2 linked regions of the Homo sapiens genome follow. The protein of the gene in region 1 purifies or fractionates together with the protein of each later gene. This does not show direct contact. Each region holds a gene or a part of one and is shown on either strand. Other genes may lie near its edges.

The links.
Region 2: the proteins of ASAP2 (region 1) and PDAP1 fractionate together in Homo sapiens (co-fractionation; one large-scale study listed by BioGRID). This does not show direct contact.

What each region holds. Positions count from the first base shown.
Region 1 is NC_000002.12:9,398,663-9,402,468, forward strand, and holds part of ASAP2 (arf-GAP with SH3 domain, ANK repeat and PH domain-containing protein 2), read left to right. Parts: intron 1-1,360; coding exon 1,361-1,410; intron 1,411-2,079; coding exon 2,080-2,168; intron 2,169-2,611; coding exon 2,612-2,734; intron 2,735-3,806. UniProt on the Homo sapiens protein: Activates the small GTPases ARF1, ARF5 and ARF6. Regulates the formation of post-Golgi vesicles and modulates constitutive secretion. Modulates phagocytosis mediated by Fc gamma receptor and ARF6. Modulates PXN recruitment to focal contacts and cell migration.
Region 2 is NC_000007.14:99,398,598-99,402,403, forward strand, and holds part of PDAP1 (28 kDa heat- and acid-stable phosphoprotein), read right to left. Parts: intron 1,828-3,806; coding exon 1,706-1,827; intron 1-1,705. UniProt on the Homo sapiens protein: Enhances PDGFA-stimulated cell growth in fibroblasts, but inhibits the mitogenic effect of PDGFB.

The sequences.
Region 1 (3,806 bases):
GCTGTGCGTGGTGGTGCACACCTGTAATTCCAGCTACTCGGGAGGCTGAGGCAGGAGAATTGCTTGAACCCGGGTGGCAGAGGTTGCAGTGAGCCGAGATTGTGCCACTGCACTCTAACCCGGGTGACAGTGCAAGACTCCATCTCAAAAAAAAAAAAAAAAAATTCACAAAGCCTAAAAAGTTTACTATCTGCCTCTTTAAAGAAAAAGTCTGCTCACTGCTGTCTCAGAGGATCAGGCCTTCCCTGCGAGTGTTCTGTAGTTAGGGATGACTGCCGGCCAGGGGGTCAGCCAGGTCAGTGTAGTGATGTCTGCAGAGACATTTACACCCAGAGACACAGATGGAAAACAAATGGCTAGACTGGTCAAATGGGAGGGGTCTTTGTTTTATGGAATAAAACAAAGTTCCTTTTCAGTTCCTTCAGCGTATGAGCAAAACCCATGTGATGTTTTCTCTCCCTTCATTCTGGGACTGCAAGCATTGAGGCCAGACAGGGTTCATTCCGAGCAGCGAAGGGAGTGTCGACAGACGGGAGCGTACAGTGGAAAGAATCCCATCCTTGCCTTCCCCTTCCCTTCCTCCCTGGTCTTCCTCTTCTGCTTCTCCAGCCCCCGTCCTGTGCCTGGCTTTATGCTAGGTCCAGGAGATCCACCGGGGAGCTGAAGCCACTGGCACTGGTCCTTAGCTCTGGAGTTGACGGATCTTGTGTCACACCTTTTGCAGATGAAAATGCTGACTCTCCAGAACCCATTTATCCAGGGCTGCCAGGTGGCAGGTTCGAGATGAGGGACCCCTCTCTGCCAGCCCTGAGAACTACTTCCTCACTCATGTGTTTCTACCTTGTGGCTTTGGGGTGTGCTGGCCCAGAGGTTCATGGATGGGGCTTGAGCCCGTGGTCAGCCACATTGGTTCCCAGAAGCAGGGACGGCAGAGGCATGGACAGCGCTGACCCAGAGTGCTCGGACCCGTCCTGGCAAAGCCATCTGGGCCTGAGGTTAAGGTTCAGCCCTGCCCTTTCATGTGATGGGACCAAGGCAGGGAAGGGGCTGAGCAGACTCGGGGCGGGGCCAGTGGCCAGTGCCCAGCATCACTCCAGACCCTGGCCATCGGTGGCAGGCTCACGTGGACAGAGTGCTCTGGAAAAGCCCTGGTTTTAGGATCAGAAACGTTGAATTTAGCACTTTCCTCAGGGCCTCTCATTCTTCCTTTTCCCATAAAAAAGAGACAGCTAAGTGACAGTGGAGGAAACCACCTCACACACTCTGAGCTTGAACTCAGAAGGTTCTCTGATAAAAGGGGATGAGAAAGGGGCAGGTGCCCTCCGGTAGCAGTAAATCTACTTTTTCCCTGTCTTTGTAGGGCTGACAAGTCCACCCCACTGACCAACAAAGGCCAACCGAGAGGACCTGGTAATTATTTAATTTGGGACTGAGTTTGTTTCTGCTTGGTCCATGGGGGCAATGTGGGGGATGTTTCCTGCCAGGTGGTCAGGACTGAGGGAGGGCCCAGCTGTCTGCCATTCCACAGCCCTCCTGCCCCCTCCCCTCCTGCCCCCTCCCCTCCTGCCCCCTCCCCTCCTGCCCCCTTCCCCTCCTGCCCTCTTCCTCTCCTTCCTTCCCTCCTTCCTTCCTTCCTCCCCCACTCCTGCCTTCCTCTGCTCCCTTCTCCTCCTCTCCCCCTCCCTCCCCCATCTCATGCCTTCCTCCCCCGCCACCTGCCTTCCTCCACCCCTCCCTTCCCCTCCCCTCCTCTCACCCTCCTCCCTGCCTTCCTCCTCCCTCCTCCCTCCTGCCATCCTCCCTCCTCCCTCGGCCTCTGAGACCCCTGCTCCTGAGCAGCTCAGTCCTGGGGCCCCTCACCTGTCCCCTCCTGCTGACATGGCAGGCTCACTGGGGGACACTCGCTGCCACACAAGCTCTCCAAGGTCTGCATCCAAGTCAGAAGGTTCCCTTTCCCCTCAACAGATCGGAACACCTGGGGAAACCTGCTTTCAGACACACCCTGTGGCTTGTACATTGTTTACATCTCATGGCTGTGATTGATGGGATGTCTTAAGCTGCTTCATTTTTGCCCTACAGTGGATCTCTCTGCAACGGAAGCTCTGGGTCCTCTGTCCAATGCTATGGTCCTGCAGCCCCCTGCACCCATGCCTAGGAAGTCGCAGGCAGTAAGTGACGAGCCCCCTTTCCTGCCTCTCTGCTCTAGCCAGGGGGGTGCAGGTGGTTTCACAAGGGCTCAGGGGAAGCAAGTCTTCCCCTCTTCCCCTGGCTGGGGCAGGGCGGGGCTCTTCTTGGTACCTGACTGCTTGGATCTGGGCAGCTGGTGGGTTTGGCCCTCCTGCCGCAGCTCCACAATGGGCCCACTCAGAGTACCCTGCCCCGGCCGCTTCGTTTCCCAGCCCTTGGCCCCTTCTCTCTGCTTGGTGGGGAGCTCTTCCCTTTTCTCTCCCTGGCTCCTGAGCTGCACTGACCTGCCCCACCTTGGCATCTGCAGGCTTCTCAGGCCTAGGTACGGGACTCCTGAGACCGGGGAAGGCAGGGTGCTTGAGCTCTCTGCCCTGAGAGCTGAGGCCTGCAGCCACACTAACCGTTGTTCCCTCTCCTGACCCAGACCAAGTTGAAGCCTAAGCGGGTGAAAGCGCTCTATAACTGTGTGGCTGACAACCCCGATGAGCTCACCTTCTCCGAGGGGGATGTGATCATCGTGGACGGGGAGGAGGACCAGGAGTGGTGGGTGAGTCAAGGGTGGGCCTGGGAGGTTCCTGGGGGCTGAGCCACGTCCCTGCCCACCTGGCTGGAGAGACGGGCTTGCAGGTGAGGTTTTCTCAGCCTGAGCAGTCCAGATGTAGTTCCTGGTGCCTCCGCCCCTTAGCATCCTCAGGAGCTGCTTCCTCCATGGACACCCCCTTCTGAGCAGGCCTGATTATTCCCCAGGGTGGCTTCCTCCCCTGTTAGGGTGCAGTTTCCACAGCACTCATGAGGGCCTGAAATGACACTCCTTCATTTTGAGGTCTTGAGTTTCTAGGTCATCACCCCCCATTGCTGGATTAGTGGAATCGGGTGTCTGGAGAGAGCTGACCTAGAGCGCAGAGCCCCAGGCCTGAGTCTGGTCCTGAAACAAGCTGTGGCCGCCCAGGCGTCCAGCAGGGTGTGGGAGCAAGATGAGTGCCGGCCACCTAAGAATTCAGACTTGGCCACTCAGGGGCTGGTGGCTTGGGGCAGGTTGCTTTTATCTTTAAGCATTAGTGGGATCATCTGTGACAGGGAGGTCACACACACACAGTCTGGTGCAGGTGATCTTGTGAGCACCCACTAAGCGGCAGCTGCAGACAGTGAGGGCGGTGGATGAACCGGCTTGAATGGGGCGTGGACAGAAAGCCCCAGGCTGAGCCCACCACACAGTAGACGCAAGTGGCACAGCTCCGCAACTGAGCTCAGAGCAGACAGTTCAGCTGGGAACTCACAGGATTTAGGGGAACTTCTTTGTCGAGTGCGAGGAGTTTGGACACTGTCTTTAGTCACTGTCCCTCCCAGAACTCCCACTAGTGTTTAAACTGCATGTCTTCAGCCTCCAGAGGCGCTGTGAGCTCTCAGGGCCAGGCAGCACTGCCTTCATTTGGCAGAGCTGGGTTCACCGGTCTTTCCTGTGGCCTCGTTTGCCCTTAATGGATTGAAAGTGTCTGTGGCCTGGGCGCGGTGGCTCACGCCCATAATCCCAGCACTTTGGGAGGCCGAGGCAGGCGGAACACTTGAGGTCAGGAGTTCGAGACCAGCCTGGCCAACATGGTTCTCTACTAAAAATACAA
Region 2 (3,806 bases), on another chromosome or scaffold:
GGAGGCTGAGGCAGGCGGATTGCTTGAGCCCAGAAGTTCAAGGCTGCAGTGAGCTACAATTGCACCACTGCACTCCAGCCTGGGTGACAGAGTGAAATCCTATCTCTAAAAAATACAAACAAAAAAAGGAATGAAGAAGTGGAGGAAGCAGCCACAGGGCATAGGATGAGGACCACAGTGGGAAACAGACACACCCAGTCTCAGGTCAACACCACATGGCCCATTCTTAGAGCAGCTCAGATGTGCACGGTGCTGCCCCCCAAGGGGACAGCCCCCATCAGTAGGGAGATGGGAATAATTGCTGGGCTCCCATGGGACAAAGTGTCAGGAATGAACCCCCTAAGTAGAGTCAGTGGTGAGGGTCATTAGCTTCCTTTTGAGGATCTTCCCAAGCTTGAGATTCTGAACTGGAGTGGATGCCCTTCAGGATGAGATCGGAGGGCCTATTTGCACTGGGTTCCTGGAAGAGCCAAGTGCTGGAGGAGGGGAGGGCCCTGCCTGGCAGGAGGCTGGGAGAGAGACTCGGCCTCCCAGAGGCCTTCAAGGTACACAGAACTGGGGAGTAATGAGAAACCAGGCATGGGAGCTAGCTAGAGGGGAGGGAGAGGGACTCCCGAGTGGGAAGAGCAGATGCCTCACTACAGAGCTGAGGAGATAATACCTGGCGAACCGCAGATCCTAGCTCAGGAGGGATGTGCCACACTCAGAAGCCTCTAAGCTGAGCCTCAGGAATGATGACTAAGGCAGCCCAAAGACTCTGCAGGGCCCTTCAGTGAAAGCAAAATGCCAGGCAGGGTGTCTCTGCAACCCCAAAGGACAGAAGGAGGGAGCAACAGGATCCCTTTTACTGGAGAGGACACTGATGCCCAGAAAGGCACAGCCTTATCGAAGGCTGCACAGCTGCCAATGGCAGAATACCACAGTGGCAGAACACCCAGGTTGCTGGGTTTTTGAAGTCAATGCCAAGAGGAAGCTACTGAAGGGGGACAGAAGGGTCCTTAGCAGCTGCAATCACACCCAAGCTCATGGCCTTCCCCACGAGGCTTTCACAGACACACCCCTCAGCCATTATCCTAAATTCCCAGTCAGGAGAGAAACTAGCAGGCTTCAACCTCTTGTAAGGCCCTTGAGGTCACCTGGTGGCTGCCAAAAGTCAGGGCACCAGTCAAGGACTGATCCTGTGCCAGGCACTTCAGTACATGATCTTGATCCTCATACGACTCTTGAGGAAGATATTTACAGCTTCATTTTCACACAGGACTTGCAGAGGCCTGGGACAGCTGGCTGAGCTGCGCTGGGCTGGACTGCCTTCTGGCCGGCACAGGCTCGCAGCCCCCTTCCAGTCCCCATGGCCACGACATTACAGATGGATGCAGGTCAGGAATGGTCAGATCAGTGGGGTAAGGGAAGTCTCCCCAGGGTGTGGTGCTCTGGAAGAGGGGAATGGAGGGCAACCCTCTGTATCCTGCACCATTACCTCAAGTGTTATGCTCAGGTCTGAGCCTGTTGTCCTATTTCCCCTGATATCATGTATCAATTGGTGAAAACAAATTCTGTGTGGCTTTTTAAAGGCTACTGGAGGGCCATTGGGGAATGAGACAGAAATAAACAGCCACAGCTCCCAGCCAGCTGGGGACCTTAGCATCCCACAGGCCAACTGCTGGCCTGTATTCCCCGTGACACAAGGCCCAGCCAGTGATGTTACCGTTCTCTCCTCGAAAGCTCCTTTGGCCCGTCCAGATCCAGTTGTGTGACCTTTTTGGTTGTCTGTGCCACCCGGTTGGGGTTCTCGATGTCGATGAGCCCTTCAACGCCTTTGCGCTTTTGCTAGAACAGGGCAAGAAGCTGGTTGTTGGAGTTCAGGTCCTGTGGAGCCCCTGAGGGCCACTCCTGCCATCTCTCAACAGCCCATCTGGATGAGGACAAACTCCTGCTCCACCCCAGCCCACGTAGTGCTCAGCCCAAGTCTCACAGTGGGTATAGCTCTCTGGAGCATCTTCATCAGCCTGGGAAGAGCCCACAGAACGGCTGCTCGGGGTCGAATAACTTGCCCAAGTCAACCAGGAAGTAGGTGGTAGATGAGAGGTGCGCCCTACCCCGACTTGCAAGCACTCACACAGCACTACTCCCCTACTTCAAGCTCGGCTTCCAAAAGCAGTTTTCCATGGAATCCCATGCCTGATTCTTCTTGCAAAAAGCGCTGGGCTGGAATCCCCAGGGCAGGGTGGGCCAAGTGTGTGCTGTCATGACTAATTCCAATTCCCACCCACCTTAGCTGATGGACTGGACTTGTAACCCAAGAATAAGCTACTGGATCACACACTCTACAGGTTTGGGACGCTGGCCCAAAAACCTGGAATCTGCACCTTCCACCTCCCCTGCAGAAGTTCCAGAAGAAGGGGGTGTGTTCTCAATGCAGCAGGTTTGGTCAAAGTTTCAGGCCCTGTCAATTCCATCAATTCTCCTTAAGGGGGCAGGGAGACAGCTTCCACTCCACAGAGCTCCCTCCACACACTTCCAGTCCAGCTGCACACTTACACCTCCACTCAGATGCCTGGCACTGTAAACTTAACATGTCCAAGACAGAACTCGAGATTCATCCTTTACCCAACCGGACCCTCCCTGCAATCCTAAGCATATCCTTGATTCGTCGTTCCTTCAGCAACCCCCAAATACAGCTTAAATTTGTCCACTCTTCTCCACTGCCATTGTCACCATCCTAGGGCAAGCCACGATTTTTTTTCTTTTGAGACAGAGTTTCCCTCTTCTTGCCCAGGCTGGAGGGCAATGGCACAATCTCGGCTCACCACAACCTCGGTCTCCTGGGTTCAAGCAATTCTCCTGCCTCAGCCTGAGTATTTGGGATTACAGGCATGAACCACCACCCCCGACTAATTTTGTATTTTTAGTAGAGACAGGTTTTCTCCATGTTGGTCAGGCTGGTCTCGAAATCTCGACCTCAGGTGATCCGCCCGCCTTGGCCTCCCAAAGTGCTGGGATTACAGGTGTGAGCCACCACACCCGGCCCAGGATTTCTGATCTGAACACTGCTCTTACTCTCAACATCCTATCATTCACTCTCCATGAAGAAGCTAAAATAATCTTTTTTTTTTTTTTTTGAGACGGAGTCTCACTCTGTCGCCCAGGCTGGAGTGCAGTGGCATAGTCTTGGCTCACTGCACTCCGCCTCCCGGGTTCACGCCATTCTCCTGCCTCAGCCTCCCAAGTAGCTGGGACTACAGGCGCCTGCCACCACACCTGGCTAATTTTTGTATTTTTAGTAGAGACGGGGTTTCACTGTGTTAGCCAGGATGGTCTCGATCTCCTGACCTTGTGATCCACCCACCTTGGCTTCCCAAAGTAAAATAATCTTTTAAAAGCATATCTGGAGGCTGGGCGCAGTGGCTCACGCCTGTAATCCCAGCCCTTTGAGAGGCCAAGGCAGGCAGATCACGAGGTCAGGAGATTGAGACCATCCTGGCTGACATGGTGAAACGCTACCTCTACGGTAGTCCCAGCTATTCGGAAGGCTGAGGCAGAAGAATGGCCTGAACCCGGGAGGCGGAGCTTGCAGTGAGCCGAGATCGCACCACTGCACTCCAGCCTGGGCGACAGAGAGACTCCATCTCCCAAAAAAAAAAAAAAAAAAAAGCATATCTGGTCATGTCTCTCAATCCCTTCAAGGCCTCCCCCAGCTGCCACTACCTACCATAAAGAAACCCCATGCCAGGCATGGTGGCTCATGCTGCTGCAATCTCAACACCTCAGGAGGGTGAAGTGGGAGGATTACTTGAGCCCAGGAGTTG